Linked DNA regions of Homo sapiens: regions 2, 3 and 4 are each linked to region 1. The links come from fine-mapping of genetic effects on gene expression. A gene starts in region 1. Each other region holds a variant in brackets. All regions are shown on one strand. Distances are from middle to middle.

The links. PIP is the estimated chance that this variant, and not a neighbour inherited with it, causes the effect.
Region 2: its variant is the best candidate, but not a certain one, in a credible set for the expression of PIP4K2B in whole blood (Lepik 2017, PIP 0.87).
Region 3: its variant is the best candidate, but not a certain one, in a credible set for the expression of PIP4K2B in blood mononuclear cells (TOPMed, PIP 0.73).
Region 4: its variant is the best candidate, but not a certain one, in a credible set for the expression of PIP4K2B in tibial nerve (GTEx, PIP 0.80).

What each region holds. Positions count from the first base shown.
Region 1 is chr17:38,798,393-38,801,074 of GRCh38, forward strand. PIP4K2B (phosphatidylinositol-5-phosphate 4-kinase type 2 beta) reads right to left here and starts at 1,164. Exons shown (of 10, transcript NM_003559.5): 1 at 874-1,164. The coding sequence starts at 1,032. CWC25 (CWC25 spliceosome associated protein) reads right to left here. Exons shown (of 10, transcript NM_017748.5): 10 at 2,049-2,682. RefSeq lists an enhancer at 341-1,159.
Region 2 is chr17:38,843,043-38,845,724 of GRCh38, forward strand. LOC124903994 (a long non-coding RNA gene) reads left to right here. Exons shown (of 3, transcript XR_007065743.1): 2 at 1,810-1,834. Among named protein-coding and RNA genes, the nearest start is that of SPMAP1, 2.9 kb to the left of the region's middle. The variant T/G (reference allele first, on the strand shown) is at 1,327.
Region 3 is chr17:38,767,949-38,770,630 of GRCh38, forward strand. PIP4K2B (phosphatidylinositol-5-phosphate 4-kinase type 2 beta) reads right to left here. Exons shown (of 10, transcript NM_003559.5): 9 at 2,488-2,591; 10 at 1-1,823. The coding sequence ends at 1,743. Among named protein-coding and RNA genes, the nearest start is that of PSMB3, 17 kb to the left of the region's middle. The variant G/A (reference allele first, on the strand shown) is at 1,549.
Region 4 is chr17:38,763,683-38,766,364 of GRCh38, forward strand. PSMB3 (proteasome 20S subunit beta 3) reads left to right here. Exons shown (of 6, transcript NM_002795.4): 6 at 437-543. The coding sequence ends at 485. It overlaps PIP4K2B (phosphatidylinositol-5-phosphate 4-kinase type 2 beta), which reads right to left. Exons shown (of 10, transcript NM_003559.5): 10 at 2,009-2,682. Among named protein-coding and RNA genes, the nearest start is that of PSMB3, 12 kb to the left of the region's middle. The variant T/C (reference allele first, on the strand shown) is at 1,484.

The DNA of each region.
Region 1 (2,682 bases):
TCAGGATCCAACTTCCTGGCAGGGGCTGTTGAACAATCTCAAAGCACCCTAAGGACCCAGGGGACCTATCTCTCCTATCTAGGACCATAATCACTATGCATCATCACAACATTGCAGCCACACAACAGATAAGTCAACATCTTTAAAATGATCACCTTCAAAAACTATGGGAAGACATATTATTTCTACTATGAATAGTCCCTCCTTATAACCAGGCATCCTCTTCTCTCAAATGGTTAATAGCCATTCTTTCTTCTCCCTAACCCAGAGAGACCCAGGTGAAGTGTCTGGTTCAAGGAAGCCTGTGCTTCTCCAGTTGATACATCTTGTTCAAGAGGGAAAAAAAAGGAAACCCAGGGTGGAGTTCTACATTCAAAGGTAAGGAGGCCTGGAGGATGGAAGAATTTGAGCAGCCACAACAACCAAACGATCAGAAAGAGAGGACTATTTGGGCAGACCACTGCTACTTGACAGAGCTGGCAGCCGGCTGTAAGGAACAAGGGGGAATATACACCCTCACAAACAGGATGAGGGGGGAGGAGGAGAAGCAGGGATGAAAGCGACTCCACTGCACTGAGGCCTTGCCTTTGCGCTCCATGGGCTGCCCCAAGCGAGCACGCCACACGCAGGAAGCCAGAAGGGCTGGAGGGAAGGGGAGGTGGCGACGGCAGACCACAGAGACACCAGGCCTCGCGTGGCGTGCGGGGAGTGCACACGGGGCCGAAAGGCGTGCAAGGGTGGGGTGGGCGTGCAAGTGGCTTGGCGAGGGGTGGCAGGCGTCACCGGCAGGGCCTGCGGGGCAAGGGCCCAGGGCTGCAGGGGGCGTGGGAGCGCGCGGGGCCGCGCTCAGAGGGGCGCGCAGGAGCTGGTTACCGTGTGGTTCACCCCCCACATCAGGACGCTGAGGATCGGCTCGCTGGCCCGGAATAGCTTCACTTTCTGGCACACGAAATGCTTCTTCTTGGTCTTGGTCTTGCTGGCGCTGAGCGGCGCCACCGCCACCGCCGTGGTGCTGGTGCAGTTGGACGACATGCCCGGGGCGGCGGCGGCGGCGGCGAAAGAGGGGGGCGGCGGAGACAGCGCACAAGCCAGCGGCCTCAGGCCTCCCCCGGACCGATCCCCACCCCCGCTCCCTCACCGCGCCATGGTCGCGCCCGTCCCGTTACCTCCCACCCCGCCCCGGTGGTTCCGTCCGCCCCACGCCCCGCCCTCCCGCCCCGCCCCGGGGAGCCCGCCGGCCCGCTCCGCACCCCGCCCCCGGGCGGTGCAGCCGCCCTGCAGTCCCCTGGCCCCGTCCTCCCCGTCCGCGTGGTACGGCCCGTCCCGGGGAGGCAGCGGCCGCCCCGCCCGCCCCTCCTCCCCGGGCCTGACAGAAACCCGCCTGGCCTCCGAACGCCTCGGGGCCCCGTGCCGGAGCCGGAAGGGGAGGAGGGCTGGGCAGGCGTCGCTGTGGACCGCGGGAGGGGCTCCCCGCCCGGGCCCCCCAACGCCAGGGTTTGGCTCTTTCCCGCAACCCGAATGCCAAGATGGCGGCGATGCCACCGCTCCGGAAGGGAAGGAGGGACGGGAATGCGAGGAGGGCGGGACGTACCATGCCCACCCCGGGGGAGAGGAGGGACGCAGCAAGGGGAAGAGAAAGTCCAGCCTAGAAAGCCAAGGAACGCCCCCTCGCTCCACCTAAGCGTGGATCTGCCCACTCTGCTGGGCCCCGGGCGCGCTCCACCCGCGGGGCACGCCCCTTGCCCCCAGGGCCAATGAGAGAAGCAGGCCAGGAACACTGGTTTTTATGAATGGGCCCCGCGCCCACCCACCTGCTGCCTGTTCTCCCCGCAAAGGGTCAGAGCTCAGAGGCCGCCAGCACCTTCAGACACCTATCCCACTAATCGTCTTACTCTGGCTCATTTCGTAAAATCTTTGAGTAAACTGCCCCACGCTTTGTTACATAATTCTCAGATGAGGGATCTCCATATATTCGACACAAATTACAGGTCAACGTTGTTCTTTCTGCATGGAAATTCGTAAACACGGTACTCCACAGGTGGTCGCTCTTTAAACAGTTACAAAAATAAATGTGGCCTTTATTACCAATTATAAAATAAACATAATTAACCCCGGCATAATGAAGTGATTAAATGAATAAAAACGTATGTTACATTCTCTAGGGAAAGATCGGGTTTCAAGCATTACAGTGCCTGGCATCATAAGTGTTCAAAAACAGAAATCCAAATACATTTTAAGCAGAATTAGGAATTAGCAGAACAAGGAAATCGCCCAGCTAATGTGCGGGTCAAGAGGGCCTAGGAGTTCACTGGTCAAATGAGGGCTTCTGGTGAAAGAATAGAGAAGGGAAAAGGAGTAAAGACAGGAGAGTGGCCCCTCGAGGGTTTTGTTTTGTTGCTGTTGTTTTTTGAGACGGAATCTCGCTCTGTCACCCAGGCTGGAGTGCGGTGGCACAATCTCGGCTCACTGCAAGCTCCGCCTCCTGGGTTCACGCCATTCTCCTGCCTCAGCCTCCCGAGTAGCTGGGACTACAGGCGCCCGCCACCACGCCCGGCTAATTTTTTGTATTTTTTTAGTAGAGACGGGGTTTCACCGTGTTCGCCAGGATGGTCTCGATCTCCTGACCTCGTGATCCGCCCACCTCAGCCTCCCAAAGTGCTGAGATTACAGGTGTGAGCCACC
Region 2 (2,682 bases), 45 kb after region 1:
GAGATTACAGGCGCCTGACACTAAGCCCGGCTAATTTTGGTATTTTTAGTAGAAACGGGGTTTTGCCATGTTGGCCAAGCTGGTCTCGAACTCCTGACCTCAAATTATCAGCCCACCTCGGCCTCCCAAAGTGCTGGGATTACAGGCATAAGCCACTGTGTCTGGCCTATTATATATATTTTAATATAAATATAAAATGTATATTTTATATTTAAATATTTTATATTTATATTAAAAATATATATATATATTTTTTAGGTGTCACCCAGGCTGGAGTGCAGTGGTGCGATCTTGGCTCACTGAAACCTCTGCCTCCCGGGTTCAATCTATTCTCCTGTGTCAGCATCCTGAATAGCTGAGATTACATGCCCGTGTCACCACCCCAGACTAAATTTTTTTTTTTTTTTGAAATGGAGTCTCACTGTGTCACCCAGGCTGGAGTGCAGTGGCAGGATCTCAGCTCACTGCAGCCTCCCAGGTTCAAGCGATTCTCCTGCCTCAGCTTCCTGAGTAGCTGGAATCACACGCGCACGCCACCACACCTGGCTAATTTTTGTATTTTCAGTAGAGCCGGGGTTTCACCATGTTGGCCAGGCTGGTCTCGAACTCCTGATCTCAGGTGATCCACCTGCCTCGGCCTACCAAAGTGCTGGGATTACTGGCGTGAGCCATCCTGCCCCGCCACCCAGCTAATTTTTTTTTTTTTTTTTTTGAGACAGGGATTCACTCTTGTTGCCCAGGCTGGAGTGCAATGGCGCGATCTCGGCTCACCGCAACCTCCGCCTCCCAGGTTCAAGCGATTCTCCTGCCTCAGCCTCCCTAGTAGCTGGGATTACAGGCATGTGCCACCACACCCGGCTAATTTTGTATTTTTAGTAGAGATGGGGTTTCTCCATGTTGGTCAGGCTGGTCTCGAACTCCTGACCTCAGGTGGTCTGCCCGCCTCAGCCTCCCAAAGTGCTGGGATTACAGGCATGAGCGACCATGCCCGGCCATTAATTTTTGTATTTTTATTATTATTATTATTTTTTTTGAGATGGAGTCTTGCTCTATTGCCCAGGCCGGAGTGCAGTGGTGTGATCTTGGCTCACTGCAACCTCTGCCTCCTGGGTTTACAGGTGCACGCCACCACGCCTAGCTAATTTTTATATTTTTCTAGATACAGGGTTTTGCCAGGCTGGTCTTGAACTCCTGACCTCAGGTGATTTGCCTGCCTCGGTCTCTGAAAGTGCTGGGATTACAGGCGTGAGTAATTTTTGTCTTTTTAGTACAGATGGAGTTTCACCATGTTGGCCAGGCTGGTCTCAAAATTCTGACCTCTAGTGA[T/G]CCTCTCGCCTTGGCCTCTTGCCAAAGTGCTGGGATTACAGGTGTGAGTCACCATGCCCAGCCCCACCCGAGTTATTTTCACCCGCTATTATTTATGCTTGTTTTTTTCCCCTCGAGACATGGTTTCACTCCAATTTCCCAGGCTGGCATGCAGCGTTGCGATCCGGAATCACTGCAACCTCTGCCTCCCGGACTCAAGCGATTCTTCTGCCTCAGCCTCCAATTAGCTGGGATTACAGGCACACGCCACCAGGCCCAGCTAATTTTCGTATTTTTTGTAGAGACAGGGTTTCGCTGTGTTGGCCAGACTGGTTTTGAACTCCTGAGCTCAAGTGATCAGCCCACCTTGGCCTCCCAAGCTGGGAGGATTAGAGCCATGAGCCACCAGGACTGGCCTTATCTTTCCTTTAAAATAACAAAACGGTGGGGGGACACATTACCATATTTTTCCTCCAGCTAATTTTCTTTTTCTTTTTCCTTTAGTTTCCACATACAGCATTGGATCTAGGTAATTATATAAATTACATATTTTATTATTTTATTTATTTCTGAGACAGTGTCGCTCTGTCGCGCAGGCTGCAGTGCAGTGGAGCGATCTAGGCTCACTGCAGCCACCGCGTCCTGGGTTGAAGCCATTCTCCTGCCTCAGCCCAGAGTAGCTGGGAGTACAGATACACACAACCACACCCAGCTAATTTTTTTTGTAGAGACGGAGGTGTTTTTTTTGTTTGTTTGTTTTTTGGGTTTTTTTTTTTTTTTTTTTTTTTGAGACAGAGTCTCGCTGTGTCGCCCAGGCTGGAGTGCAATTGCGCGATCTCGGCTCACTGCAACCTCCACCTCCCGGGTTCAAGTGATTCTTCTGTCTCAGTCTCCCGAGTAGCTGGAGTTACAGGCACCTGCCACCACTCCCAGCTGATTTTTTAATTTTTTTTGAGACAGAGTCTCGCTCTGTTGCCCAGGCTGGAGTGCAGTGGTGCGATCTCGGCTCACTGCAAGCTCCGCCTCCCGGGTTAACGCCATTCTCCTGCCTCAGCCTCCCCAGTAGCTGGGACTACAGGCGCCCGCCACCACGCCCAGCCAATATTTTGTATTTTGTTTAGTACAGACAGGGTTTCATTGTGTTAGCTAGGATGGTCTCGATCTCTTGACCTCGTGATCCGCCCGCCTTGGCGTCCCAAAGTGCTGGGATTACAGGCATGAGCCACCGCGCCTGGCCTAATTTTTATATTTTTAGTAGAGACGGGGTTTCACCATTCTGGCCGGGCTGGTCTTAAACTCCTGACCTCGTGATCCGCCCATCTCAGCCTCCCAAAGTGCTGGGATTACAGGCGTGAGCCACCATGCCCGGCCTTGTTT
Region 3 (2,682 bases), 30 kb before region 1:
AGGTTTCCCATCCAATCCAGCAGCCCCAGTGAAGTCCAAGAATGCCGTCTCCATTCTTTCCTGACCTATATGCTGTGAGTCAGGCACAGAGACAGTGCTGGTTCCTGCTTCGGAAGCTGGGCTTGGCCAGGTTTGGAGGGAGCCACAGGAAACCAATCTATTCATTCAAAATGGTTTCACAAGCGATCTTCACATCTTTGGGGTTATCTACAAGTCTGACCATATCTCATCCCAAATCCCCAGTTCCTGGTTGAGGGGGTGAGAAGATGCAGGAATGTACCTCCCCCAATGCAGAACAACAGAGCTGTTTCTCTCCTGGCCAGAGCAGCCTGTGGCTCAGTTCTGAGGGCCTGGGTGGCAGGCTCCGAAGGCAGGTGGAACACCTGCAGGAAGCCACTCCTTCCAAAAAAGCCTGTGGGCTGCAGATCTGCTAAAAGTCTAGAGCGGGGCAACAAGGAAAAACAGCCCCAAGGCTGAGGCCAGGTCAAAACCCACATCAAGCCTCCAAACTGGATTTCCTGGATCACATCCTCATGTAACTAGGAAGCCACCTCACGTTTGGACACCACACTCTAAGATGGGGGCACCTTGCTGGCTGTAACTCTCCAGGCACAGGGAGACAGATCTCCTACAAGGTCATCCCGGAGCTTAACGAGGTGTCTCTGCTAAAAAGCACTCCAGGCGCTTGGAGATCTGCCCAGAGCTAAGAGTTCGGCTAGAAGTAAGAGTGCCTGGGAGGAGGTCAGAAGGAAGAAGGAAATAGATCGAGGGCACAGGGCCTCATTTGATACATCAGTTTCTGAAGTTTTCCCAAAGGGAAATAACCATTTAAACATGAGGGTCCTGATAAATCCAAAGGTACTCTAGTTCCTCTTGACCTAGTGGGAGGCAGGCTTTACAGAGAGGACTTCTGAACTCCAGGGGCTAAGACAGCCTGGGGCTTGGGTGATCATCACAGGGTTCTCTGAGAACCAGGTGTCCAAGAGCCCAGCCGCTTTCCTGCCCCTCACCATCCCATGAGGATGAACTTATTCCCCTCTGAGATCTCTGATTCTGATCTGAGATCTCTGGTGTTGACCTGGTGTATTCCAGACAGGATGGAGGAATAATGCAACAGTTTTCACTTGAATCCAAGGGAAAGGTGGAGGAAGTTGTGCACAATACTCCATAAATTACAAAGTTAATCCAGACAAGAGCAAATGCAGCAGGGCGAGGTGTCTGACCTCTCCAATCTGGCATCCATAGCACTTGGTTCTGGAAGGACCCTTGTGCTGGGTCTACCGGGTATCTCTTTAATTGAAGGGAACTGAGAGCTCAGCAAAGATGGGGAGGGTGGGTAGGCTGATGAAATATGATTATAAATAGCAAACCTGGAGCAATGAAATTTCAGAAACAAAACCCAAATAAACCCACGAAGTCATCTCTAGCCCCAAGGTATCTTAAAAGGTTACAAGGTACCAAAAAGGGAACCCCTTTTTAACCTGGGTGTCAAATGGGGAGAAAAAATCAAGGGTAAGCAGAAGGTGGGGTTACATCCTGTGAGCAGGT[G/A]CACACACAGCACATCCCCCTCCTCTTCAGCTAAAGTCTCTTTCGGTGTCACAGGCTGCAGTCTCATTGCTAAAGCCCTCCCAAACCCGACTCTGCTCCCACCCTCCCATCTAGCCCAAATACACCCTTCTCCCTAACTCCCGATCCCCGACCCCATATCCAGCTCTCTGGCTCTGGCTGAAGGTAGAAGAGAACTACGTCAGGATGTTGGACATAAACTCGTTGAAGCGTTTGGAGTACTGCTCAGGGTTCACAGTCGAGATCTCGGCCCCTGCCTGTAATACACAAGAGGCTGATTCAGGTTGAGTTCCTGTGCCCCAATCAGGAGGCTGCACATGGGGGGAGCCAGGGTATTCAGAAGCCTCTTACTCAGTATCAGAGCTGAATACCACCCCCAACCCCACCAAGACTGAGCAGACCACCTCAGGAAGTGGCATACAAGTCCTGAACTGTCCTGGCCCCACTCCTGTGATTTATAACCCCAGGCCTGCACCGAAGTAGAAGAAAGGCAGTGGGGAGGTGGCAACGCGGCTCTGGATCTCTGTGGGGGCCACTACATGGAGAACAGGGCTTCAGGCCCACAGGGAAACAGGCCTGTGGGGAGCAGTATGGGCATGGAAACAAAGCTATTACTCGCCCTTCAACAAGATGCACAACAGGCCCAGCAGGCCCTGGGGAAAGACACTGGCAGGCTTGGCCCCGAGGGCTGGAGAACTGGGGGATAAACAAATTGGGCCCAGCCTGGCAGGGAGCAGGTGGGTGAAGGCAGGGAACATGGCAAGGCAGGCAGGCTGCTCTTCCAGTCTGCTCTCCTGGGAAGAAGGAGACAGGAGTGTGTTCCTTGGAGCAGGAGGCCTGAGACTGCCCTCCCTGGGGTCTGAGGGTAAGCACAGATGCACCGACCCAGCTGGGCCCTGGATGAAGATGGAGAGGACTCACCCCGTGTTTCACCGTTTTGGCAGCATGTGCAGCTTTCTTCTTTGTATCGTATGGCGTGAGGATATCAATGATGGCCATGAAATACACCTCCTTCTTGGGGGAACCTGGAGGGACAAGGAGAGCAGGGAAGAAGGAAGAGGGGGCAGGAGAAGGGCAGACAGCAGCTGGGCACTGCTACAACCCCCAGACACAAGG
Region 4 (2,682 bases), 35 kb before region 1:
AGTAGAGACGGGGTTTCACCATGTTGGTCAGGCTGGTCTTGAACTCCTGACCTCGTGATCCGCCTGCCTCAGGCCTCCCAAAGTGCTGGGATTGCAAGCATGAGCCACCGCGCCCGGCCAAGCTCCTTCCCTTCTTTTGAGAGCTGTGAAGTCTGGCCCTGAATCATTTTCTGGGAAAGCCTCCCTGAGGTGGTTCCACCTGTGGAAAGTCGGCCCAGGTCTCTGTTCCTATCCCTCCTTCCTCACCACAGGCGGAGGAGATGAGCTAGCAGGAATGAACTAGAGCAGGATAGTTACACCTAGAGGCAGCGGGCAGCTATTTGTTCTGCTCCCTTGCCGCAGGGCTTGAGGGCTTGGTGCTGAGGGCCAGGAGAGCTAGTCACAGTCACGGTCCAGATGGGTAGAGATGTTTTCTTGTGATTTTCTCCCTCTGCAGCGAGAAGGACAAAATCACCACCAGGACACTGAAGGCCCGAATGGACTAACCCTGTTCCCAGAGCCCACTTTTTTTTCTTTTTTTGAAATAAAATAGCCTGTCTTTCACTCCTGCTTTTGTCTTTGATGCTTTCCTGCAGATCTCTGCCCTAGCTGGGCAGCTACAGCCAGCCACTCAAGTGTGTGTGGCCTGGCCCTCGGCTTGCTTTCTGGCTCGTGCTCTACTCCATCAGTGCGTGCCAGTGGGGACAATCCACATGTCACTTGCTGCATGCTCCCTGTGTGCTAGGCCCCACACAAGTGCTTTACACGATCTAGAATTTATTCATCATAATGACTCAAGGTAGTTGAGATTATCCTTGTTTGGAGAAGAAGGACAGTTAAATAACTTACCCAAGTCTACTTTAATAAGTGATAAAGCCAGGACATAAACTCATGTTCCATTGATGCCAGAGCTTAGAATCCTTTTCACTCAAACTCTACGGGAAAACCCTTACATCTTTTATTGCTTCAGGTAGAAATTTGGTCAAGTACCCATAAGTAGTCTAGATTAGTGTTTCTTAACCTGGCCAGCTCATTAGTCACCTGTGGAATTCCTAAAACACATACCTTGATCCCACCCCTTGAGATTCCAATTGGCCTTTTAGGGGCCTGGGTACCTGTCTTTTCCAGAATTCCCCAAGTGATTCCAGCTTGCAATCTGCAGTACATAGATGGCCTAATAAGCAAGTAGAAAGTTTGCATAGCAGAGTGGTTCCCAAACGTTAGCCCCCATCACAATCACCTGGAGGGCTCATTAAAAGTTTGATTCAGTAGATCTGGGTTGGAACCTGAGAATTTACATTTCTGACTCCCAGGTGCTAATGACACTGCTGGTCCAAGACCACACTTTGAGAACTACTGGGTTTTAAGCTAAATGCCCAGATGCAGTAGATGAGGTGCACAGAGGTGACATGTTCAAAGTTATGTCAGGTGAGTGGCTCCTAGCCAGAGTTCGTTCTACACAGCTGGAGGCGGGGGGGCGGGGGGGGGGTTGTCCATTCTTCCA[T/C]GTGCATGGTAGTAACAGCTAACAGGCAGATTGGCTCTGGTGCTGTGGTGTTTTGTTTGTTTTTTCCTTAAGAGTCTCATTGTTGCTAGGGCTGGAGTGCTGTGGTGCAATCATGGCTAACTGCAGCCTCAACCTCCCAAGCTCAAGTGATCCTCCTGCCTCAGCCTCCTGAGTAGCTGGGACTACAGACATGTGCCATCACATCCAGCTAATTCTTGTTTTGTAGAGACGGGGTCTCACTATGTTACCCAGACCGGTACTGAACTTCTGGGCTCAAGTGATCCTCCTGCCTTGGCCTCCCCAAGTACTGGGCGTGAGCCACCAAACCCAGCCAGTGGTGCTGTGCTTTTAACCACTGTTTATTAATTGCATCTGAAAGCGGGATGTCATTGACCATATTCTTTCTCCAAACTCAAGCCATACATTGATTTAGCCGAAGCTGCCTCTAAAGCTAGGACCAAAACTTTTTAATTCTGGGAAGAAAAAAAAAAGGTTCATTTCCCAAGGACTCACACATAACAGATGTACACAAAGCTTTTTGAGTTTTATTTTTTTCCTCAGGTTGGAGATTCATCGTAACATGCATGCATTTTCAAACAGTAACAGGGTCTCAAACTTTTTAAAGCAGACGTTAGACAAGCACAGGGGATTGAAAATTCCCATTTAAAAAATGGAAACTGCAGTGGGATATGGAGAAGTCACACACTTGGTGGGGTGGTGGTTTGTCCTGCTTCCCCAAAAGGTGGATATGAACTTAATTCACATTTTTTAATTTCAATGATCTGACCTGATGCTGGGATGTGCCGAGCAGTACTGCCCCCTCCCCCAAGGGTGTTGGCTCCCACCGCCTCTCACAGTGGCTCTGCGCAAGGGCAAGAGGCTCCTGTGGAAACTTCTGCCCTGGGATACTGGCACAAGCTGCCAAGGGACAGCTGAGTCTCCTTTTCCCCATGGGGCACTCTTCATAAGTGGCACATTCTAGAGGAGGGAGAGGGCCACGGTCACTGACCCCTGCAGATGGCTGGTAGATTGGGGAACAGTTGTCTGAATGGGTTTTCCCTTTCAGGACCTCCTGCCCGCATGACTGCCAGGAAGAGATGAGGCTCCTAGACTTGGGGGGCCACAGGTTTAAGGCCAGAGCTCTGAGTGTTGTTTAAACGCACTGTCCCTTCTAGCCCCCAACACCTGAGTAACTCACA